Homo sapiens: one gene and its partners. The protein of the gene in region 2 purifies or fractionates together with the protein of the main gene of each other region. This does not show direct contact. Each region holds a gene or a part of one and is shown on either strand. Other genes may lie near its edges. The genes, in order: ACAD11, TTC4, MYH2, SERPINC1, PYGM, LUM and TXLNG.

What was found.
Region 1: the proteins of TTC4 (region 2) and ACAD11 purify together in Homo sapiens (affinity purification with mass spectrometry; one study listed by BioGRID and IntAct). This does not show direct contact.
Region 3: the proteins of TTC4 (region 2) and MYH2 purify together in Homo sapiens (co-immunoprecipitation; one large-scale study listed by IntAct). This does not show direct contact.
Region 4: the proteins of TTC4 (region 2) and SERPINC1 purify together in Homo sapiens (co-immunoprecipitation; one large-scale study listed by IntAct). This does not show direct contact.
Region 5: the proteins of TTC4 (region 2) and PYGM purify together in Homo sapiens (co-immunoprecipitation; one large-scale study listed by IntAct). This does not show direct contact.
Region 6: the proteins of TTC4 (region 2) and LUM purify together in Homo sapiens (co-immunoprecipitation; one large-scale study listed by IntAct). This does not show direct contact.
Region 7: the proteins of TTC4 (region 2) and TXLNG fractionate together in Homo sapiens (co-fractionation; one large-scale study listed by BioGRID). This does not show direct contact.

The regions. Positions count from the first base shown.
Region 1 is NC_000003.12:132,558,810-132,562,309, forward strand, and holds part of ACAD11 (acyl-CoA dehydrogenase family member 11), read right to left. Parts: intron 2,409-3,500; coding exon 2,292-2,408; intron 1,134-2,291; coding exon 1,024-1,133; intron 277-1,023; coding exon 162-276; 3' UTR 1-161. UniProt on the Homo sapiens protein: Acyl-CoA dehydrogenase, that exhibits maximal activity towards saturated C22-CoA.
Region 2 is NC_000001.11:54,718,861-54,722,360, forward strand, and holds part of TTC4 (tetratricopeptide repeat protein 4), read left to right. Parts: intron 1-2,302; coding exon 2,303-2,380; intron 2,381-3,500.
Region 3 is NC_000017.11:10,525,659-10,529,158, forward strand, and holds part of MYH2 (myosin-2), read right to left. Parts: intron 3,422-3,500; coding exon 3,032-3,421; intron 2,217-3,031; coding exon 2,090-2,216; intron 1,399-2,089; coding exon 1,280-1,398; intron 1,138-1,279; coding exon 941-1,137; intron 219-940; coding exon 35-218; intron 1-34. UniProt on the Homo sapiens protein: Myosins are actin-based motor molecules with ATPase activity essential for muscle contraction.
Region 4 is NC_000001.11:173,907,328-173,910,827, forward strand, and holds part of SERPINC1 (antithrombin-III isoform 1 precursor), read right to left. Parts: coding exon 3,427-3,500; coding exon of another isoform or gene 3,304-3,426; intron 2,616-3,303; coding exon 2,225-2,615; intron 188-2,224; coding exon 123-187; intron 1-122. UniProt on the Homo sapiens protein: Most important serine protease inhibitor in plasma that regulates the blood coagulation cascade. AT-III inhibits thrombin, matriptase-3/TMPRSS7, as well as factors IXa, Xa and XIa. Its inhibitory activity is greatly enhanced in the presence of heparin.
Region 5 is NC_000011.10:64,753,475-64,756,974, forward strand, and holds part of PYGM (glycogen phosphorylase, muscle form), read right to left. Parts: intron 2,085-3,500; coding exon 1,973-2,084; intron 1,882-1,972; coding exon 1,799-1,881; intron 1,363-1,798; coding exon 1,219-1,362; intron 872-1,218; coding exon 779-871; intron 552-778; coding exon 405-551; intron 209-404; coding exon 45-208; intron 1-44. UniProt on the Homo sapiens protein: Allosteric enzyme that catalyzes the rate-limiting step in glycogen catabolism, the phosphorolytic cleavage of glycogen to produce glucose-1-phosphate, and plays a central role in maintaining cellular and organismal glucose homeostasis.
Region 6 is NC_000012.12:91,102,129-91,105,311, forward strand, and holds the end of LUM (lumican precursor), read right to left. Parts: intron 2,192-3,183; coding exon 2,037-2,191; 3' UTR 501-2,036; downstream 1-500.
Region 7 is NC_000023.11:16,817,466-16,820,965, forward strand, and holds part of TXLNG (gamma-taxilin), read left to right. Parts: intron 1-1,108; coding exon 1,109-1,412; intron 1,413-2,698; coding exon 2,699-2,790; intron 2,791-3,500. UniProt on the Homo sapiens protein: May be involved in intracellular vesicle traffic. Inhibits ATF4-mediated transcription, possibly by dimerizing with ATF4 to form inactive dimers that cannot bind DNA. May be involved in regulating bone mass density through an ATF4-dependent pathway.

The DNA of each region.
Region 1 (3,500 bases), on a different chromosome or scaffold from region 2:
ATAAAACCCACTGATCAAAATAGATGCTATAATCTTTACCACAAATGAATAATTAACCCTGTGCTCAAACTGCTACAAAAATATGAGATTCAAATGTTGGAGCCAATGAAGTTTGTATAAAGGAGAGTTTCTGCCAGTGGGATGTGGCAGTGCCACCCTCCTTATATCTTGGCTGTCAGTCTTTTGGCTTGGTCCCGCAGCTCCATTGTTGCGATTGCTGAAAGATGAACTTCGTCAGGTCCATCTGCTAAACGCAAAACTCGGGTTATAGCATACCTGAAAAAGCAAAAGAATCAGGGAACACAGGGAGTTATGGAAGAGGAACATGATACTTTGACATCAGTCACTCTGATTGTCAACCAAGACTATATTAATTCTTAAATTCCACCAAGGTCAGGGTAAGAAAAAGGGTACCAGGAAAATAAGCTAAAGGGCTTCTGCAATGCCATCTTAAAGTTTCCAACTTGGGAAAGTTAAATGCCAAAGTACAGTGGAGTTCATCTCATTCTTGGTTTGCTACAGTTTACTACATGTTGCTAGAACTTAGAACAGGCAGTGACTGGTATGATACTATATATTTAGTTCTTTCTTAAGGTTTAAAATTGATGAAGGATGAGACTCTATCTCCATTGTGATAGAGAAGGTGACACTGTAATTATGTGTGGAGATGGACAGATGGGGAATGGAGAATGTTCCTTTCTGCCTCCCAGTCATCAGGATCTATATATTAGATAGTCACTGACATGTCCTGCTACAAATTCAGCGAAACCCCATGCTGTATCTACAGCCCAGGAATCCTCAGTGGGACCCCTCAGTGTAAAAATTAACATAATGGAATGAAATGATTATTGTAATAATAAGAGCAACTATTTCTTGGTGTTGAGCTCTATATTAATGTATATCACTTCATTTAGCCTTCAATTACACTGAAAATAAACATAAGCAATTAATGTCAAGGCATCTGTAGATTTTTTACCTCCACGCCTATCAAACGTAGATGATTCTTAAATGACATCTACTCACATGTTAGCCAGAGGGTAATCCTGGGAAACACCAGCACCTCCGCACACCTGGATGGCCCAGTCAACGATTTTGCTGACAGCCCGTGGGGCAGCCACTTTGATCATTGCAATCTATATAAGCAAAATATGAAAAGAATGCTTCTTTCTTAGACTATACACAATGTGGCAAAACTGGGAAATGAAACAAGGAAACTTTCCCACATCCAAGTCACCACTAAAACAGGATCTTTAACAAAAGCCAACAAAGAGATCCTGCTGCAATGCCATATTTCAGTCAATACAGACCCTCTGGAAAGAGACACCTCTTCCAAATCACATTTTATCCATTTATTTCTAACTTGTCTTGTTTCCAAAAGGATTTCAGGCAGCTGATAAATCACACTCATCACCTTAGGGATCATAAAAATAGTCCAAGGGTCTTTGCGCTATTAATCAGGTTTCTTTTAGCAGTTTTATGGGCTTTTAGAATTAAATGATTATGTCTTTATTTCATATAATCCAGAAACATAAGAAAGCAAAGGATGAGAGGTCTCTTTCATGAAACATTTACTATGTAGCAGTATCATGCTGTGCATTTTTTGTTTTGTTATTTGAGACAGGCTCTCACTCTGTCACCCAGAATAGAGTGGAGTGGCTATTCCCAGGTGTGATCATAGCTCACTACTGCTGCCTCAGAATCCTGGGCTCAAGCAATCCCCCTGCCTCAGCCTCCCTGGGACTACAGGTACAAGTTACCATGTCGGCTAATTTTTTTTTTAAGAGACAGGGTCTCACTATGTTGCCCAGGCTGGTCTCGAATCCCTGGCCTCAAACAATTCTCCCACCTCCACTTCCCAAGTAGCTTGGATTACAGGCGAGAGCCACTGTACGTGGCTTCTGCACATTCTATGTACATCATCTTGGTTACTCTTCACAACAACCCTAGGCCTTAGGCAGAAAAGTTAAGTACTTTGCCCGTGATCACAAGGCTAGAAGAAAGTGGCAGAGTGGGTGCAGTTCCAGGGCTGTGTAAAGCCTATGATTTCCCCCATTCCTTGTTGCTGTATCTTAAGAATGCTGAAGATATTCTCCCTCCTGAAAATCATTCCCTAAAGCACTTGCTAGGAGACTAGCAAGTGACAGGCATTTATAATTTATAACCCAAAATCACATGGGGGCTTCCAATATTCTGAGTGCCATCAAGATGCCATGAAAACTGAAATGTCCAACAGGTGAGAGAACTGGAGAAGGCTCAGCAGTTGGTGGTCTGAGGGGAGAAGGTAGCCTCACCTCTTTCTTAGCGCCAGCACTGCCCAGAGTGTCCATGCTGTGAGCAGCTTTCAGAGTCAACAAGCGGATCTTCTCAATGGCAATGCGGCTTTCAGCAATCCAGTGAGCCACAACCTCCTATAGGGGAGGAAAAGGCAGCAAAAGAAGGAGGAGCTAAGCTGGTATCTGATGTCCACGTGTAACACAGTCTTATAGTTTGGTGAAAACACTCTCTAAGCCAGAGATTGTTCACAAGCTTTACTCTATGTATTTTTAAATGGAAGAGTTAATTCATTTGATATACACCAGCCTAACCACATACTTGTGGAATGCTTACAGTTAAAATTGAAATATTTTAGAAAGAAATTTTATTTTCCCAGAAAAATCATTTATTTTGGATATCTTAATGTCTAAGGTAAAGATGGCTGAACTGAGCAACTGCCTTACCGCCAAACCACTCAAAGGCCCTCCTGAATGCTAATTGCCTGCTGTCATGGAAACTTGGCTAAATGTATGGTAGTGAAGCTGCTTACAGGTAAACTAGAAAATTCTCAGCACAATTTCAGTGTGGGGACAGTTCAGCAGCAATTTGCTGTGTTGTTATTGTTATTTATTCATTAAAAATGACCTTTTCTTTAGTAGACAGTTGAATTATAATACATGTATAGATTGGAATAACCACAGTCAAGAACACAGAACAGTTCCATCTCCCACAGAACTCCCTGGTGCTGCCCCTTTTTAGTCACAGGCTCCTCTCACTCCTAACTTCTGGCAACCATTGATAGGTTCTCCATCACTATAGTTTTGCCTTTTCCAGAATGTCATGTAAATAGAATCATATAGCATGTATTGTTTTGAGACCAACTTCTTTCATTCAGTTTAATGCCTTTGAGTTTCATCCAAATTGTTCTGTGTATTGACTGTTCATTCCTTTTTATTGCTGAGTAGTATTCCATTGTAAGTATGTATCAGTTGGTTTATCCATTTGCCTGTTGAAGGACATTTCGGTTGTTGCCAGTTTTTAAATTTTATTTATTTATTTTTTGAGACAGACTGGCTCTGTCGCCCAGGCTGGAGTGCAGTGGCGCCATCTCAGATCACTGCAACCTCCACCTTCTGGGTTCAAGCGATTCTCCTGCCTCAGCCTCTGAGTAGCTGGGACTACAGGCGCCCATCACCATGCCTGGCTAATTTTTGTATTTTTTAGTAGAGACAGGGTTTCACCATATT
Region 2 (3,500 bases):
AAGTGATCCACCTGCCTTGGTCTCCCAATGTGCTGTGTACTCAGTGGACCTTTTCAGTCTGGAAACTCATGTTTCTAGGACATTTTCCTGAATGCTTTGATATTTTTCTTTTTCTTTTTTACTCTTTTTTCTCTTTTTGGAAATCCTGGCTGCTGGTACTTTGGGAACCAAGTAGGAGAAGAGGACCAAGGGCTCAATCTTTAATATTTCCTTTACTGAATCACCTTTGTGCCTGGGGGTTCCAGTCCAGAGACCTACTGTTTTATTGTCTGCTAGGGTAAACCTCCAGTCCTCCACCTGGAGGAACAGGGGAGGAGTAGGTCACTGGTGCAGCAGAGGGGTAAGGAATATGGGACTCTGACTGCTTCTTAAGTAGATTTTCAACCCACCTTCACCCCCACTTCCAGAGGTACCTGGTGCCATCAGTTCCTGAGTCCTGAGTACTTTGTAGTTTCTGCAGTGCAGCTTGGTAGCTTTTGTGCTTTCCCTCTACTGGTTTAGAATTCAGTTTCCTTAAGCCTGATACATCAGTTACTTGTTCCTTTGTTTTCCAGCTTTCACAATGTGTTCTGTGTTCTTCTCATTTTCTTTGTCTTTATGGGAGAGAGAGTGGGGATTGAGTTAAATGTATGTGTTCAATCTGCCTCCTTTAACTAAAAGTCCTTGGATCCCTTTCATGTGCATTTTTTTCCATGGTTGAGATCCTGCTGTTCTTCCAGTTTGATATTCAGTTTTTTCACTTAATTTTATAACAAACAATTTCACCGTCATTAAAAATCATTTCTGAATGTTATTTCAATAGCTAAAGTTGCATCATATGGACATGCCACTATTTATACTGTTTGCTTTATTAGTCTGCTATTGTTGAGTATATAGACTGTTTTTTGGTTTTTATAAATAATGCAAAAATAAATAAAGTCATAATATTTTTCTGATAATTCTGATTATTCATTAGGCTAAAGCACGATTTGGCAAACTAGGACTCAGAGTCCACCCCTGGCCCCTTGGCTTGCCATGAACTAAAAATGTTCCATACTTTTTTTTTTTTTTTTTTTAAAGTGACAGGGTCTTACTCTGTTCAGGCTGGAGTGTACTAGCTGTGATCATAGCATAGTGCAATCTTAGACTCCTGGGCTCAAGCAATTCTCCCACTTCTGCCTCCCGAGTAGGTAGAACTATAGGCATGTACCACCATGCCCAGCTAATTTTTAAAAAATTTTTTGTAGAGAGAGAGTCTTGCTATATTGCCCAGGCTGGTCTTGAACTCCTGGTCTTAAGCAATCCTCTCACCTCGGTCTCCCATAGTGCTGGGATTGCAGGAGTGAGCCACCTCCCCAGAGGTTTCTTACATTTTTCAAGAATTGTAATAAAATGAAGAAGAATGTGCAGTAGACCACATGTGGCCTGCAACACCTAAAATATTTATCTGGCCCTTTACAAAATATTTTGCTGACCCCTGGGCTAGAGATTTAGGTAAATACTAAACCATTAAGTAATAATTATAGTATACTCCAGAAAGTTAAAGTATACCTCATGGCTTGCTAGTTTGGATAACTGGTATGTGTGTGACTGCATACTTTTTTTTTTTTTTTAATGCACTTACAAATATATACATGTGTGTCTAGATATTTAGTTTTTTTTTTTTTTTAAATAGGCTTCCTCTATACTCATAGAACCACCACTTAAAACAATATAGAACAGACATCCTACCGTGTTTCTTACATGAGGATCTATCTCATTCTTTTTAATGGCTGCATAGTATTCAATAGTATGGATTTACCATAATTCATGTAATCATTACCAAATTGAGGATATTTGAGTTATCTCCAGCTTTTCACAATTAAAGTAATGCTGTAGTTAACATGCTTTTACATTTATCCCTGCACATTTGTTCAAGTATTTTTGATAATTTTCCAGAAGAAAATTGTTGTGTCAAAGTATATGTACAAAATACATGCTAATTTGCTTTCTAATTTACCCTGAGAGTACCCCTTTTCCATATCTTTTCTAATACTAGATATTATTTGTCTAACTTTTAGCAATTTCTTAATTTTAATTTCCTAATCATTAGTGATGTTGAACGTCTTTTCATGTGCTTACTAGCCATTTACAGTTCTGTAGATTGCCTGTTATAGACATTTCTAAGGCTCTTGACAAGTACAACCATATTTTTTCAAAAAAACAGTTGCTCTCATTTGTATTTCCCCAGGATTGTACAAGAGTGTCTTTGTCACTACATATAAAATTTTGGAAACATTTTGATCTCAAAACTTCTCTCTTTTACTAAACGGTGTTTTGTTAGGCAATTTTCGTTCTGCTCTCAATGATGTGACAGCTGCCAGAAAGCTAAAACCCTGCCACCTCAAAGCAATAATAAGAGGTAAGTCTTGTGGAACTACAGTATGACATTTAAAGCTTTGATATGAAGGTGCTAGGATACTAATAAAGTCATCTTATTTTTGCAGTCTGGGTATTAAGTTCCTGTTCCTTATCAACAGCAACATGCCACTTTTAAAAGAATTCCTCAGAGAGTGACTTAACCCTTTATGTAATAATAATTTGTAGAGAACTAGAAGCCCCTCATTTTAAATTAATAAAAAATAAAATTAATTAAAACAAAGCAGTTGCAAAGCCATATTCTGATTTTTTTTCCAAATTAGCTGATTGAAAGGCAAGGTCTTCAAATGCCATGTTAATGTTAATTAAAAGATAAGTTATGGGACCTTTGCTGATGACTTTGGTGCTGAGATGTTCTCAGATTATGTTTTCTCTTGTAGTCTGACCTTTCTATGTAATAACAGTGCTTTTATTACTTTTATACTTCACCTTTTCTTTGAGAAGCTCATAGGTGCTTTGCAAACTTTAATTTATTCATCACATATTAATCTTCCCTGCATCCCCATGGACCAGCTTAAAATGCTTTTTCAAAATTATGCCTCTTTAAATGTTCATGGTTAAGGGCAGTAGGAAGATCCATGTCCCTCAGCTGTAGGAAAAGAAGGTACTGAACAAAGATTGGCTGATAAATTGAATCTAGGTAATCCTGTGGAATTTGCCTCAGGCTAGAAGTGTGTAATCCTTGATTCAGTTGTTGGTTTAATTTACAATGTGACCTTGGCAAGACACCCACTTTGAATATCAGTTTGCTCATCTCTAGAAGATGGGGTTAGAATCTGTTGGCATCTAAGCCCTTACAATGCTTATATTTTGAAATTCTGTGGAAAACCTAAAGAGGCTAACTGGAGAAAAATGTACATGATAACATGAAATTTTTTTTTTTTTTTTTGATGGGGGAGAGGCAGCTTAAACTGGTAGCCATAAAGAACAAAATTAGGAGACACCTAATGTTTTTGGCCTTGCCACTGCCTTGATGAATAGCTGAAGCAAAGTCTGCTTTTTCCCTCCATTGAAAAAATCATCTGGGATGGACTTTATTCTTCCTGTTTGCAGATGAGGAACCTAAAGCTTGGATATGCTTGGTCCTTTGTCTAAGGTCTAGC
Region 3 (3,500 bases), on a different chromosome or scaffold from region 2:
TAGAGTAAAGAGCAGAAGATGCTGGAGGAATTACCTTATCGAAGTTCCTTTGCTTTTTGTCAAGGGCGGCACAGGCGGCATTTGTCCTCTCCACATCAAGCATGAGGTCCTCGACCTCATTCTGCAGCCGCTGCTTCGTCTTTTCGAGGGAAGCACATTTGGCGTTCACAGCTTCTACATGTTCCTCAGCTGCCTGCAGCCGCTGGGCCAGCTTCTTCCTTGAATATTATACATGTTTTCAGAGAGAAGTGAACCATAATATGAATTATGAGCTATTGCCACACACGCTGAAGAGTGTTAGAAACTTCACATTAATGCTGCCCAGCCACCTTTCATTCTTTCAACAAATATTGATGAGCCCCTTTTATGAACCAGACACTGGCTACGCAGCAGTGACCAAGACAAAAAAGATCTCTGCTTCATGAAGACCACAAACAAGTGAGAGAGGTAAACAATAAGCAAATCAGAACATCCGTAATAATACCTTACAGATACAAGTGCAATGAAGCAAAATAAAATAAATGGTGGGCAACTACTCTAGATATTCAGTGAAGGCCTCCATGAAGAGATATTTGAGTCAAGAGCTAAAAGTCAGAGAGCCAAAGGGAAGTCTGTGGAGAGGGTATTTCAGACAGAGAGAAAAGCAGGTACAAGCCCCTGATGCAGCGATGAGCTCATTGTGCTTGACAAACAGCAATGAGGCCCCTAATTATCAGTGTAATTATTTGCTCTTCTTTGTTTTCTTAACTAGATTTTAGGATCGTAAGGCAGGGACCATATTTGATTTATTCATGTCTTATTCTCAGGGCCTGATTGTGACTGGCACATAAAAGCAGATTAATGAGCATTTGTGGACTAATTCACTGAATCTTCAAAGGTCATGTCTTTCTGATTCAATATGCAAAGTTTTCTGCTCATTCTCTCATATCTGTGCACATACTTGGCCTCCTCCAGCTCCTCTGTGCGCTGGATGGCGTCCGTCTCGTATTTGGTCCTCCATTGGGCAACCTCGGTGTTGGCCTTGGACAGTGCTCTCTGCAGCTCGGCCTTGGATTCCTGCTCCTCCTCATACTGTTCCCGCAGCAGGTCACAGTCGTGGCGGGAAGACTGCAGGGCATGCGCCAGGGCGTTCTTGGCCTATGGAGGCAGTTACACCTTCATTTTACTGGATATTTAAATATTTAACTCTTAACTTTCAAAACCTTTTGAAAGCTGGTATAACAGGCTCCATGTAGAATCAGCTCATGAGGGAAAAAATCAGTCTTAGAATCATAATTACTTTTATCTCCTCTTCAAGTTGCCTCTTTAATTCTTCAATCTGTTGAGTAAAGGCTTGTTTGCCTCTTGATAACTGAGACACCAGAGCTTCCTTTTCATCAAGCTGGCGTGAAAACTCACCTGATGGACAAAAGAAATGGCACCATTTTTTAGGTGAAAAACAAGATTCTGCAAGCCCATGTTAGAAAGAAATTTTGACTCTTATTTTCCCAAATTGAGTGCTCAGATGGTTGAATTCTATACTGACATCTTCATGCTCAATGCAGGTTTTCAGTTTTTATGGTGAAACTTTCAGATCAATCGGAATGAATAAATACAGCTTAAATTCCTTTTGTCCTTTCCATAACTAATTCTTTCAGAATTATATGATATTGTGCAAAATCTGGTGAGGACTGTCAAATGAGTAAGCTAAAATGTCTAATTCTACAGGGTCCCCATTCCATAGGACTTTTGAGAGACTGGGATATTCATTGCCCCATTCTGGAAGTTACTTGACCCTCATATAAATAAAGAGAAACTTGGCCTGAAAGAGAAGCCCTGAACTCATGCTGGAGTAACCGCTAATCCCAGCATCCTCGCAATGAGCAAATACTCAAGGCCATTCTGGAACAGAGCTTGATTTTGTCCTATTGAAACCTTTATCTCCAGCATTGTCCCAAGATGACCTTGCACATAGGTCAGGTGTCTGAGCTGTTCAGTGAATCAGACATGTTCTCAGCTGTTTTATTAGGCTCCCACTTCACCAAATCAGTCCGTTGTTCTTAATCACATCCTCTCCACCCTGAAGCTGCACAGAAGAGGGGAGAGTTACCAGATTCAGTCTGCAGGCGCCCCCTCTGCGCAGTCAGGTCATTGATCAGCCGCTGCTGCTCCTCTTCCTTTGATTTCAGTTCACTCAGTTGGTCCTCTAGAGTCCGGCACATTTTCTCTAGGTTTCCCTATAGAAGAAAAAGTAAAAGAAGAAAACAGAGACCTTTTAAGCGAATAATAATCACCTTTGCAGTTACTGTAACTTCTCCCCAAAATAAAAAATACAATATTTATCTTAATATAGAAAAGAAACCAAATTATCTTATATGTAATGTAATGCAGAAAAATTTTTCTTTCTTTCTTTTTTTTTTTTTTTGAGACAGAGTCTTGCTCTGTCCCCAGGCTGGAGTGCAGTGGCGTGATCTCGACTCACTGCAACCTCCGCCTCCCGGGTTCAAGCGATTCTCCTGCCTCAGCCTCCTGAATAGCTGGGACTGCAGGCGCGCGCCACCACACTTGGTTGACTTTTCTTATATTTTATGAAAGCTAATCATGGAGCTCTGTTCAATATTAATATGAAAATGTTAAGGTTATATTCTAATTTTAAGATTTTGTTAGAATTGTATAGTGTACATTTTCTAAAAGCATGTTCTAAAATACTTCATTGCCTTTATGTACGATGAAACTTTCCTTATTTCAATTTCCTTGAAATAATTGGAGACCTTTGTTCTATAACTGGAGACTTGGAGAACACAGATGGCTTATGTTCAAAAGCTGGTGTTGTCGTTTATTAATGGCGTGATGGGTCAAAGTGCTTGGCCTCTTTGAATTTCTGATCCTTTATTTGTTAAGTTGAAATAATAAAAAATGCTGATTTTTTGTGCTTACTTCCCTGAATTACTGCAGTTAACAAATGACTTAATGTGTAAAAAGTGCCCTGTGCAAACTATGATGTGTCCATAATGCATTATTTTCAATAACAATTTCCCAGAATTTGTAGTACCTTGGCTTTGGAGACCGTTTCTACATTACTAGCAAGGTCATCAATCTCCATCTTCATCTCACTCTTCTCCTTCTCCAGCTTCTGCTTCACTCGCTGCAGGTTGTCAATCTGCTCCCCAAGCTCGGCCACACTATCTGCATGCTTCTTCCTCAGGGTGGCCGCTGTGGCTTCATGCTGTAGGGTGGCCTCCTCCAGGTCCCTGCGCATTTTCTGGAACTCAGCCTCCCGCTTCTTGTTCATCTCAATCTGGGCTGAAGTGGCCCCACCGGCTTCTTCCAGCCTCTCGCTGATCTCCTCCAGCTCCCGGGAGAGGTCAGAGCGCTGCTTCTCTGCTTTGGCCCGGGAGGCCCGCTCTGCCTCGATTTCCTCCTCCAGCTCCTCAATGCGGGCCTGGGAATGGTGGAAAATACAAACTCAGCTTCTTTGTGTCATAACTGCCTCCGAGCCAGACTGATGAAAATCATGTACT
Region 4 (3,500 bases), about 120 Mb from region 2:
TTATAGCAGGCCTGTGGAGGCCTTTTGCATGCCTTAACACTGGAAACAGGCCTTTTCCACGTGTTCCTGCTGTTCATGCATCTCCTTTCTGTACCCTAAGAGAGTGGGGAAGGTGTACTCACCTCAAGAAATGCCTTATGGAATGCATCTGAGACATAGAGGTCATCTCGGCCTTCTGCAACAATACCTGGAAGGAAGACCGGAGAAGTCTTTGTGAGATGGGAGAAAGTTGGCTTCAACCCACAGATGGGAATTCAGTTTGGATTAAGAGATCCTTTGGGGCTTTTTGAAACATAAGAAGAAATCCTAAATCTTCACCTAATCATACTCTCACAATGAATATGTGTTAAAAATAATAAAGTACTTTGGGGGCTGGGTGCAGTGGCTCACACCTGTAATCCCAGCACTTCGGGAGGCCAAGGTGTACAGATCACCTGAGGTCAGGAGTTGGAGACACTCTAACTAATATGGTGAAACCTTGTCTCTATCGTGAAAATACAAAAATTAGCCAGGTGTGGTGGCGCATGCCTGTAATCCCAGCTACTTGGAAGACTGAGGCAGGAGAATCGCTTGAACTCGGGAGGTGGAGGTTGCAGTGAGCCAAGATCACGCCACTGCACTCCAGCCTGGGCAACAAGAGCAAAACTGCATCTCAAAAATAATAATAATAATAATAATAATAATAATAATAATAATAATAAAAGTACTTTGGGCTTGTTCAGCATGGCTCCTGATAATTCATTCTCAGGCTTCAGCTTTTTGTGGGAGAGAGAAACGGCAAGACTCTGTTCTTACAGAAAAAACTCACTCCATCCAGAAGGAACATCTTTCTTTCCAGTCTGGCAACATTTTTAGTTTTCAAAACTAGCTTAAAGACAGCCCAATAGCACAGTGGCTCACGCCTGTAATCCCAGCACTTTGGGAGGCCAAGGCAGGTAGATCGCCTGAGGTCAGGAGTTCAAGACCAGCCTGGCCAACATAGTGAAACCCCGTTTCTACTAAAAATGCAAAAATTAGCCGGGCGTGGTGGCAGGCGCCTGTAATCCTAGCTCCTTGGGAGGCTGAGGCAGGAGAATCACTTGAATCTGGGGGGTGGAGGTTGCAGTGAGCCAAGATTGCACCACTGCACTCCAGCCTGGGGGACAAGAGCAAGACTTCGTCTCAAAAAAAAAAAAAAAAAAAAAAGGTCAATAAAGATAAATCTAATTACTTAACATCGTAAACTTATTTTATTATTTATTTATTTATTTAGTGATAGGACCTCACTCTGTTGCTCAGGCTGGAGTGCAGTGGTGTGATCACAGTACACCACAGCGTTGACCTCCCGGACTCAGGCAATCCTCCCAGCTCTGCCTCCCAAGAAGCTAGGACTACAGGTGTGCGTCACCATGCCTGGCTAATTTTTTTTATTTTTTGTAGAGACCATCTCACTATGTTGTCCAGGCTGGTCTCGAACTCATGGGCTTAGACGATCCTCCCACCTCAGCCTCCCAAAGTGCTGGTATTACAGGCGTGAGCCACCCTGGCCAGCCAACTTCTTTAAAAGATATTTTAATGTGCCAGGTGCGGTGGCTGACGCCTGTAATCCCAGCACTTTGGGAAGCCAAGGCAGGCGGATCACAAGGTCAAGAGTTCAAGACCATCCTGGCCAACATGGTGAAACCCATCTCTACTAAGAATACAGAAATTACCAGGTATGGTGACGTGTGCCTGTAATCCCAGCTACTCAGGAGGCTGAGGCATGAGAATCGCTTGAACCCGGGAGGCAGAGGTTGCAGTGAGCCGAGATCGCACCGCTGCACTCCAGCCTGGGCAACAGAGTAAGACTCTGTCTCAAGTAATAATAATAATAATAATAAATGTCAGTGAGGCCTGTGTAATGGGAACCACATTTCCCCAGCTCTTAATATCTGTCTCTTTGCTCTGAATTCCAATGCCCTTTCAAATTCCTCTCCACCTGGTCCCATCTCCTCTACCTGATACAGACTCACAGGGCACCAGTGCTAGCTGGGCCCATGGAGATCCAAGAACAAACTTCCCTTTTACAGAAGAGGAAACTGAGGTCTCAAAAGGAAAAGAGATTTCCACAAATTAGCAGTAGAAACTAGGATCAGTATCCAGGAGTCCTGACTTGTTGCTCCTTTCTATTCTTTCTCCAACTCTTCCACTTTTGGTCAGACTACCTTGCGGGTGGAGAAGGGAGGAAACTCCTTCCTAGACAAACCTGGGAGTTTGGACTTTTCAGGGCTGAACAGATCGACAAGGCCCATGTCTTGCAGCTGCTCCTTCAAACTGAAGCCGTCCTCAATGCGGAAGCGGGGCATGTGGACCACCAGCATCATCTCCTCCAATTCATCCAGCCACTCTTGCAGCACCTCTGGGGTGAGTTCCTTCTCTACCTTGGCCAGGCTCTTCTCAGGCTTGGGCAAGATGAGGACCATGGTGATGTCATCACCTTTGAAGGGCAACTCAAGCACCTGGGTGCCTTCAGCCACGCGCCGATAACGGAACTTGCCTTCCTGGTACATCATAGATGCTGAACACGACTCTCCATCAGCCTTGTAGAACAGTTCCTTCCTTGTGTTCTCAGGGCTGAACTTTGACTTCCACAGGCCCTGGAAGAGAATCACAAAGTAAGAACACAAACATTCATAGGAGGATAGTTATTGACACAAGACATATCCATATTATAGTGTTACATTAATATATAATTATTCGGAAAAAAGACTGGCGGGATATGCACAAAAAGGTTAACAATGGCTGTGTCAGAATGATGGAATTATGAGTAGGTTTATTCATAACTGTCAAACCTTGGAAGCAGCCAAAATGTCCTTCAGTAGATGAATAGACAGACTGTGGTACATCCAGACCAAATGTAATGCTATTCCATGCTAAGAAGAAATGAGTGACAAAGCCACGAAAACACAAAGGAACAGTAAATGCATTTTACTAGGTGAAAGAAGCCAATCTGCCGGGCGCGGTGGCTCATGCCTGTAATCCCAGCACTTTGGGAGGCCGAGGTGGGCAGATCACGAGGTCAGGAGATCAAGACTATCCTGGCTAACACGGTGAAACCCCGTCTTTACTAAAAAAAAACCAAAAAATTAGCCAGGCATGGTGGTGGGTGCCTGTATTCCCAGCTACTTGGGAGGCTGAGGCAGGAGAATGCCGTGAACCCAGGAGGCGAAGCTTGCAGTGAGCCGAGATCACGCCACTGCACTCCAGCCTGGGCGACAGAGCGAGACTCTGTCAAAAATAAATAAATAAATAAATAATAGATTGACCTGCCCTGCTGACCTGTACCTGTGTAGCTTTCGGCAGTCCATTTGCCCTCTCAGGGCTTCGGTCTCGCCATTTAAAAAAAAAGGGGGTAAGCTGAAGAGCAAGAGGAAGTCCCTGGGGTCTCTCCAGGGCCATTCTGAGTACCTTGAAGTAAATGGTGTTAACCAGCACCAGAACAGTGAGCTCATTGATGGCTTCCGAGGGAATGACATCGGTGA
Region 5 (3,500 bases), on a different chromosome or scaffold from region 2:
GGGTGGGGCCTAGAGAGGGGCGGGATCTGGAAAGCGGGGCTCACATGGTCTTCTTGAGGATCTCGGAGTGGATGCGCGCCACGCCGTTGACGGCGTGCGACCCCGCGATGCACAGGTGTGCCATGTTGATGCGCTTCACTGCGCCCTCCTCCACCAGCGACATGCGCCGCAGCCGGTCTACGTCCCCTGGGAATGCGGCCGCCACCCGCTGTGCCCAGAGAGCCCAGAGCTAGAACCAGACCCAGGAACCCCCATCCCCAGTCCCCAGCCCCACACCCCCAGAGCTCTGCCCAGTGCCCCCACTGCCCCAGAGTCTCAGGGCCCTGGCTGGACGCCCCGACTCCCAGGCCCAGACTGGGTGTCCCCCCTCACCCCCACACCATCCCCCAAGCCTCCGGACTCACGTTGAGGAAGCGCTGGTTGATCTCGTAGATGATCTGGAGGTGCCGCGGCAGCAGCGTCTCCAAGAGGTGCACCGGCCAGCGCTCCAGGGCCTCGGGCAGCACCGTGTGGTTGGTGTAGGCACAGGTCCTCACTGTCACATCCCACGCCTGGCACACGGGGTGGGCAGTCAGGATGCTGACCTCAGCCCAGTGGGTCTCCTCACACACTACGCATCCCAGTGGGCCCCCCCACTGCAGTGCCAGGTTCCAGGACGGTCCCTCTGGCCTCAGGCTCTGATCCCTTCACTCCATTCATATCCTCCCACGCTCCCAAACTGGGAAGGGAACCCCGAGGCAGAGAGCATCAGATGGGGCAGAGGGGCCCTGAAGCCCACCTTGTCCCAGTCCATCCGTTCCAGGTCCACCAGGATCCTCATCAGCTCGGGGATGGCCAGGGAGGGGTGGGTGTCATTGAGCTGGATGGCCACCTGGGGTAGGGGGAGGGGTCAGTCTGGGCTCCAAACCACATTCCATGCTATGGTCACTGCCCTATGCCATTTGGAGGCCCCCAGAGAGCCCAGCACGGTTCTGTGACTGGGCTGTGGGCAGAGGCAGGCCGGTGCTCATGGGGGTGGGAGGAATGGGGGGAGTGGGGCGGGAGGAGGAGGGAAGCCCAGGTTCTGAGCCTGTGGATTGTGAATCCTGAACAACTGACCCTCCCACACTCCCAGTCTCCACTCCCTTATCTATTACATGGGGCAGGCAGGCCGAGGCTGGAGGGAGAGGCCTAGCACACACTGTCCGGTCACAGAGTCGCCCTCCACACGCATGGTACCTTATCTGGGAAGGCATCGAAGTTCGTGCGCACGGGATCACGGCAGCCGAACTTGGAAGACTTGAAGCGACGGATGATGTCCTGGAGGGTGGCAGCCACCACGAAATACTCCTGCTTCAGCCGCAGCTCCTTCCCTTCGAAGAACTGGGGACAGCATGAGGCAGCGTGAGTCAGGGCGGTGGGGGCATGGCCTAAAGCTGCGGTGGGTGTGGCCAGGAGGGACTCCCACCCATACCGGGACCCCTGAGCCCTGAGCCGGCCCCCTCTCTGGGACCCAGGGGCCTTTCCTCCACCAAGAACTAGTGGCGAGAGACAGTGTCAGGAAGAGGGGTACAAGAACCGAGTGTGTTGTGGGTGTCGCCAGGGAACAGCCCCTCCAAAGTGCCCTTCGCTAACCCAGTTTCCTCAGGACTCAGGTGTCCTTGCACTCAAAAGACTTGAGGTGGGGGCACAGGATGCACAAGGCCAGCAATATGCCCTGGGTGTGACTAGGGCACCAGCAAGTGTCCTTCCCCAGCTCTCCCTGACCCCTGCTGCCAAGGACTCAGGCTTCCAGCCCCCAGCCCAGGGGGTGACGCACATTATCATTGGGGTACAGGACACGAGAGATGTTCTCCGCCAGGTTTCGGTCCAACACAGCCTGGATGTAGCCACCGACATTGACTGAGGGACAAAAGTGGGGACAGGGTAAGGCCTGCGCTGGGCGTGGCCGGCGGGCAAGCTGGGGTTGCTGGCTACCAGTGGATGAACTCACAGTCCTTGAGGTTGAAGTCATTGGGAGCCTTGGCAGACCAGAGGCGCATGGTGTTGACAACATTGTTGCGATAGCCAGGCACGGGCGTATCGTAGGGCATGGCCAGTACCACCTGCGGGGGGCAATCCTGTCAGGAGCTGGCCAGCCCTGGCAATTGCCTCCCTCCCCTCAGGGCTGGGACTCAAGGCTTTATCCCTGCACTCTGCAGACCCAGGCTCTTGTCCTTGTCTAGCATCGATGAGCTGGGTAACCATGAGCAAACCCCATAGTCTCTCTGGACCGCATCTAGAGCAAAGACACCCTCAACACCTCCCCGACACCCATAAGCCCTGCCTGGGCAGACGGTGGTGAGGAAAATGGAAGGAGGCAGGTGATAAGCCCGGAACCCAGGAGGGGCTCTGTTGGCGACCACTCTGCAGCAATGGGGGCTGGGCTGGCCAGCCTGGCCTGAGCAAAAGCTAGAGGACACTGTGGACTCATGAGAGGGCTGGGGGAACCCAGGGCCAGGCTGAAGGGGTCACAGAGGTCAAGTCCATCCAAAGGTCTCATCTCTGGTTGACCACAGGGCTAATTCACGGTGACTAATTCTGCCCCGCCTTCCATAACTAGCAAACATCAATAATTGTCTGCTACCACGGTGCCAGGGGTACATTCACTCCTCTAAGCGAGCCCTTTTAAGGGGCATCGCCCTCCCTCCCCACATTCAGTCACCCTGATTGGTGCAGGGTGGGAGTTGACACAGAGAGAGGGAAGGGACCCATCCCCGAGCACACAGCCAGGCTGGCAGCACCAGAGGGAGCCAGGTCTCCTGCCTTCCAGCCACAGCCACTTGTGCCAGTTGCCACGTGCACCTGGCATGGACTGCCAGCAGCCCCCACTGCATCTTAACCTGGAGGACAACAAACAAATGCTCAGTTCTGAAAGCCTAGTGGTTTATCTGCAGCCCATCTGGGGGCTGATGACCTGAAGCTTCAGCAGGAAGATTGCCTGAACTGGGATTTGTTTTTTGTTTGTTTGTTTTTGAGATGGGACCTCACTCTGTTACCCAGGCTGGAGTGCAGTGGCACTATCTTGGCTCACTGTAACCTCCACCTCCTGGATTCAAGCGATTCTCTGGCTTCAGCCTCCTGAGTGGCTGGGATTACAGGCACGTGCCACCATGCCCGGCTAATGTTTTTGTGTTTTTAGTAGAGACTGGGTTTCACCATATTGGTCAGGCTAGTCTTGAACTCCTGACCTCAGGTGATCCACCTGCCTTGGCCTCCCAAAGTGCTGAGATTACAGGTGTAAGTCACCACGCCCGGCCTAAACTGGGATTTGTACACCTGGTTTGGTTTTAAGGTTTTCAGTTTTTGGTCTTTTTGCTTTTTGAAACAGTCTCACTCTGTCACACAGGCTGGCTGGAGTGCAGTTGTACAATCATAGCTCACTGCAGCCTTTAAATCCTGGACTCAAGTGATCCTCCCACTGAAGCCTCAGAGTAGCTGGGACTACAGGCATGCACCAGCACCCTGGCTAATTTTTTAAA
Region 6 (3,183 bases), on a different chromosome or scaffold from region 2:
AAGTTTCACCAGATTTTCTTCCCTCAGCACCTCACTAGGGCTGCCCAGTGAGTGAAGGAGTAAGTGGGAATCTTCTCTTCTCCAGCTTTGCCCTGAAAAGATGAAGTCTTCCCTCTAAAAAGAGGAGTTGTTCCTAAACAGGGTATATTCCTTTCCCAGATGCTTCTACAACAAAGTGTCACTAAGTGCTTAACTTTGTCTTTGTCAACCAACATTAACTACAAAGGGAACTGCTGTTTTAAAAGTCATAGTTTTGCTTCTTAGGCATGAGAATAACATAGGACTTTGGATAGAGAGAAATCAAAGGCTTTTAAAGATGCAGACAGACTGTCTGCTGAGAAGATGTTTCCTCTAAGTAGTATAGAGACAAAGCTCATTTAATTCCATCACATTCTTTCTAAAAGAGAATTTATGGCACATTATCTACCCTCTATTTGAGAATAGGTTTCCAAGGCTTGATAGTGACTTTTGTAGACAGGGAAAAGAAAATTCATTTTCAATTCATCTACATTATAGTTTTATCGAGAAAAAGTAGATTTCAAGTTTAAACCAACAAATAAACTGAGGCTGCTATCACACTCTAAGGAATTTACCTTAATGTAGAAAACTCATGAAAATCAAAAATACACATTGTACCTAATGTAATATCCATCGCACATATCTGCCAGTCAACTCAGTCTCAATGATGATCCTCTGATGAAAGGCCGCTGTACCATAAGATAGAGTTCACTAAAAGTGGTGTGTTAAAACATTTTATGCCTTAGAGATACATTTTATTTGTACTAGACACATATTTGACTATATATACACTGGTATGGGATGAGCAGACCTTTGTCTGCATAACATTTGGCTCCACACATAGGTTTTATTGTTAACTAGGTAAAACAGAAGTTATTTTTATAAATTATATGCAGAGTATTTATCATTGTATAGAATTGTATATACTCATAGAAAGCTGAAAGCTGTTATTACTGGATTATGAACTCAAAACCTATGATCCAGACATATTGGCTTCAAGCTAAAATGATTTTTTAAATATCTATTTCAGAAAATTTTATATTCATTCATTTTTAATCCTGTGAGTTATCCACCATTTCTTGACAACCAAGGAGTGAGTGCTGAGATCACATAGCAGCTTCTTATCTAATAGAATACCATTGTATATGAACCAGTAAAAACACCAGGAATGGGAATAATGACAAATATCTAAGTAAGTTGTGAAATCTAAGTACCTATTATAGGTGTTTTTAAGAACTCTTTGTAAGTGAATGCTAGAAGTAGACAAATTATTTAGTGGAAAATCCTATGTTCACATCAGTAAAATATTGCAGGCCAGAGATATCTTTTGATTTCTAATCTATTGTTTTATGTATTTTATATACAAAGTACAGAAATTTCACAAGAAGTCAAACACAGTGATGCCATTTGCTATGTTTTATTTTGCTAGTAGCTTATTAAACATAACATGCAAATAATCAAAGAGAAACATACATGACTTAGAGTGAAAAATAATTCTAGAAAAGTTTCACTAGGTAAGTATGCAAATTCTTATTCTAAAAATACTTCTTTAAGTGCATGAAGCTTCATGTATTTTGCAATATTCTTGGCCTCAATATCTACCACCTATTTTTTAACCAGACAAATTTGAATGTATCAAGATAATTTGGTGCAAGAGAGTAACATCCATATGTATTTAATCCAAGCTTTGAGGAACATTAAGATTTAAGGATTATAAAACTTGGCTGATTTCCATGCAACCAGTAAAAGGTTTTGCACATCATTTGACAGTAGAAATAAAAAAACACTAAATTTACAAATAAAGCATTGAGTTTGATGTCTATTCGTGTATATGTGTGTGTTCTTGTGATGAAATAGGCCTGCCTTTCATCTTTTCTTTAAAAAAAATAAATGTTTACAAAACATTTCCCTCAGATTTTAAAATTCATGGAAGTAATAAACAGTAATAAAATATGGATACTATGAAAACTGACACACAGAAAAACATAACCATAAAATATTGTTCCAGGATACAGATATTAATTAAGAGTGACTTCGTTAGCAACACGTAGACATTCATACATATCCGGTGGAAGACTGGTTTCTGAGATGCGATTGCCATCCAAACGCAAATGCTTGATCTTGGAGTAGGATAATGGCCCCAGGATCTTGCAGAAGCTCTTTATGTCAAACTCTAAAAATTAAAGAATAGAAAACATTAATCATTTTTCAGTACACTGGCTCAAAACAATACAAAAAATTTATGTTTAATATATTATAAAATAGGACCTCTTCCCATTTAGAAAAGTCATAATATAGTATATGTTTGAATTTGCAACCATTAAAGGCATATTTCAGGCTACCAAAATGGCACAGTAACATTTAGTAAAGAGTAATCATGGTAGATCAAGATATTCAGTGGAATATTTTAAATAACAGAACTTATTTTATTACTAGAAGTTGTTTTTAAAAAGGCATTCAATAAGTGTGTCATATTATCTAACAACTTTTTTGAAATAGTATAACCTGAAGAAATATAAATGGATCCCATTGTTGTATGAACAATCTCAGTATAAGTACTCTTTGGTTTTACATCTAAAAATAAGAAGGGTTAACTAGATGATCTATAAAGAATTTTCTAGCAACCACATACCATGACCATGATAAAAATTCCAAGACAAAAACCAAATCATTCCAGCAATCACACACCATAGCAATGATCAAAATTCTAAGGCAAAAACCTAATCATGGCATGTCCACCATCTGAACTCATGTTTTTGTTTATTTGTTTATTTTTGTCCATGGTCAAAAAGCTGCCACAAATGAAACACTGACTTACTTTGTAATAGAAACCAAGAGTGTTACTGAATTGACTGACCTGTGTATACACAGAAACTATGTTTGCCTATGTCTATTTTAGATTAACATTTTCAAGTCCTTTATCTTGTTTTCATTTTCAAACTCTAGTTAACAAAGACTTCAGTGGAACCCCAAACACACATGCTTTTTAAAATAACTCATCAGTTAATTCCAGGGATTTTTCTATGGTACCAACATTTGAGAAAGTGAGGAAAAATGGAAAGAAGATGGGCATAGTCCCATCTTGGAATTCTACCTCTGCCACTTACCCAGGTGGGCAACACTGGAACACTTATCTGATCTTGTTAGAAATAACACATCTATCTT
Region 7 (3,500 bases), on a different chromosome or scaffold from region 2:
ATGATTATAACCTAAAATCTCAAATATCTGCTCTCCCATAAATTTTGAAAGTAGCTTTTGTCCATTTGTGATAAGAGAAGGATACTAAACACCTCCTCACCTCAACAGTATTATTCAGAAAAGGAAGAGGCCCTCTTTCATACAGAGAGTAAATGCACAGAATTTAAATTTGTGCCACATCATGACCAGGAAGTGTTCACAAGGGGAAAAAACTCAAATAGGGTTAACAATGTGATAGAAGACAGTTACTGACATAAGAATAACATACTGGAATAAAGGCATCTTTACCATGTGTATTAGGGCAGGGATAGCTGCTTAAAATATCAGTCTCAAAATTTCCATGGCTTAGCATGAGAGAAGTTTATTTCTTGTTCACCTATAGTCCAGTGTAGGTTTTCTTTGTAAGTAGGGTGGCTTTCCTGTATGTACATAGGATATGGAGGCCTAGGCTTCATTAATCCTGTGGCTCTGCCATCCCTTAGGGTCTTGGAGATGTCTGCATTTTGCCAGAGTCGGGGAGAGATGGTTGAGAAAGAACTTGTGCTTCTAAGAATAAAAGTCTTGGACAGTCGTGTCCTATGCCCACATTCAGTTGGTGGGAACTTCACGTGGAAGTCGCCCCTTGGTGTAAGGGGGCTGGGGAATAGTCCCTGGCTGGGCACTTGTCTCATAGTGCCAACTCCACAGGAACTTGGGGGAGCATGGGGTTTTGATGGATAGCTAGCTAGCCATCCCTGCTGTACTGTCTCCTTGAGGATAAGATTAGAATAATTAATATTCATTAACTGGGGACAGTTTCACTTCTGTTAAGGTGCTAATTATGTTAAGTGGTGAATTTTTATGTGGAAATCAATTTAGATTTATAACTAAATGGGTTTCTTGCCTCCTTTGGTACTGAATAGTTGTGTGATTCATTTTAACTAATTTCCTTATACTTTATAGTTAGGTCACCTCTCAGTGAAACCTAGAAAGTACCATATTTACATCAATTTTGCAAACCACTAAGGAAGAAAAAACTATCAGGCTATGATGTTCCATTGCTTGTAAACATTGATTACATTAGATTTAACCCCTTCTCCATCTTTTTTCTCCTTCTCCTTTCTTCTAGTTTGAAATTGGCACAATGGAAGAAGCTGGAATTTGTGGGCTAGGGGTGAAAGCAGATATGTTGTGTAACTCTCAATCAAATGATATTCTTCAACATCAAGGCTCAAATTGTGGTGGCACAAGTAACAAGCATTCATTGGAAGAGGATGAAGGCAGTGACTTTATAACAGAGAACAGGAATTTGGTGAGCCCAGCATACTGCACGCAAGAATCAAGAGAGGAAATCCCTGGGGGAGAAGCTCGAACAGATCCCCCTGATGGTCAGCAAGATTCAGAGTGCAACAGGAACAAAGAAAAAACTTTAGGTAATAATCCGTTCAGTGGTTGGACGTTTCACATGCTAATCATTTTACTTGTGTTTTCTGCAGCCCAGATAATTTTGAACACAGCCACTTTAGAGGTGCTTAGCCAACACCCCTAGTGTCTTCGGTGAGGTCAGTCCATGTGTCTGCTGCAGTTATGTGCAGGAGGCGAAAACAGCAGAGAGGACGCTTAGTTTTTTTTTTTTCCAAATAATCAAGAATTGGCTAATTAAAAAATTTTTTTTGTAGAGACAGGTTCTCACTGTGTTGCCCAGGCTGGTCTCAAACTCCTAAGCTCAAGCAGTCCTCTCCTGCCTCGGCCTCCCAAAGTGCTGAGATTTCAGGTGTGAGCCACTGTGCCCGGCCACATTGCAGTTATTTCTGATCATTTTCAGTAATTGTGTTTAATCGTCTCTTAAAGGTCTTATTGGCCTTGGGTTAAATGAGAGAAGATTTCATTAATAAAATTTTATGTGAGTAGAAAAGCATTCTTTTTTGAAGTCACCCTTTTTCCCCCATAGCAGTCTGTATGTCAGAGTTATTTTGAGATATATATTTTGATGCAATATCTTACATATAAGAATGAACATTAAAAAAATAAAAATGGTACCTATCACCTAGCTTAAGAAATAAAAGATTACCCCTTACTTCGAAATGCCATTAGTCCCCTCCTAATCTCAGCCACCTGCCTCTCTCTGCCAAAGTCCTTACAGTATTGCTAAGGTCTTTCCCCACAGGAAGAGCTATCTTGTCATCCTTTGGTTAGTTAACCTTAGTTAACACACAGAATATACTTAGTAAATCATAAGAAAAGCACACGTTTTTAAATTGTTCGTAGGAAAAGATATGTTCTCCTGTGATTATGTGTGTCTTTGGCAAAGTGTAGTACCAACTGAAACTCCCTTTGAACTTGCTTCTATATTCGAACTTGGTTAGGAGGAAGCTTTAAAAAAAATTCCATGCCCTTTGTAACTTGCCCTTTGTCTTAACTTGGACATCAGTGATTAGGCAAGGAAATTTATAAGCTTTTAACAAGAGTTCTTATAAATAGCTCGCAGTGTTAGTGAATGAGTTAAGAAATTTGGGGTGGGTATGGGGAGGGGAGCGAGGCCTGCTAATCCAGAATTTAAAAATTGCCTTTTTCATTGAGCTGGTAAATCTCTTATTTATAATCATAGGTGTAAATTAGTTTACTCTGGATGTCAGAGCACGGGAATTGTTAGTAGAATTTACAGGTTAGATTTGATCTCATTCTTCTGGGACTTATTTCTTTTCTTGTTAACCATCAGGAAAAGAAGTTTTATTACTGATGCAAGCCCTAAACACCCTTTCAACCCCAGAGGAGAAGCTGGCAGCTCTCTGTAAGAAATATGCTGATCTTGTGAGTATTAAGCCAAGGATGTGAGAGCCATATAAAATATAACAAAATGTGTGTGTGCTTGATAAGTTTCTTAAAGTACAAATTTGATATGGCCTTAAATGTAAAATTATATTTTATTCTGAAATTGAAGAAGAGAATCTGTTTTGTTGGGGCTTTTTATTGGTTGTATAGTTTCATTTTATGAGGTAATATATAGGGAACATTGTAATACTAAGATGTGGCATAGATTTTCTAAAACTCAGTTTTAGAGTCTAAGTCAGCCTTTCCATTGCTATGTTGTGATGCCTTAGGTGCCACTCAGTTGGGGTGTAGTGGTTCCTGTCTTAAACTTTTCCTAAGGGAATTCTAGAGATTGAGGACTGTTTTGATTGAGATTGTGAGTTACATGAAATCATCTGCTAAAACAATACTTTGTCTCAGAAATACTTCTTTAGCATCTACTATGTGTCAAGCATCCTTTTTTCCATTTTCTAGAAACAGTGACCTTATCAAAGAGTTTGTTCTCAGCTATATTATTTTATTTTATTTTTTTGAGACGGAGTCTCGCCTGTGGTCCAGGCTAGAGTGCAGTGGTGTGATCTCAGCAGACTGCAAGCTCCACCTCCCGGGTTCACGCCATTCTCCTGCCTCAACCTCCTGAGTAGCTGGGACTACATGTGCTCGCCACCACGCCTGGCTAGTTTTTTTAATTTTTTAGTAGAGATGGGGTT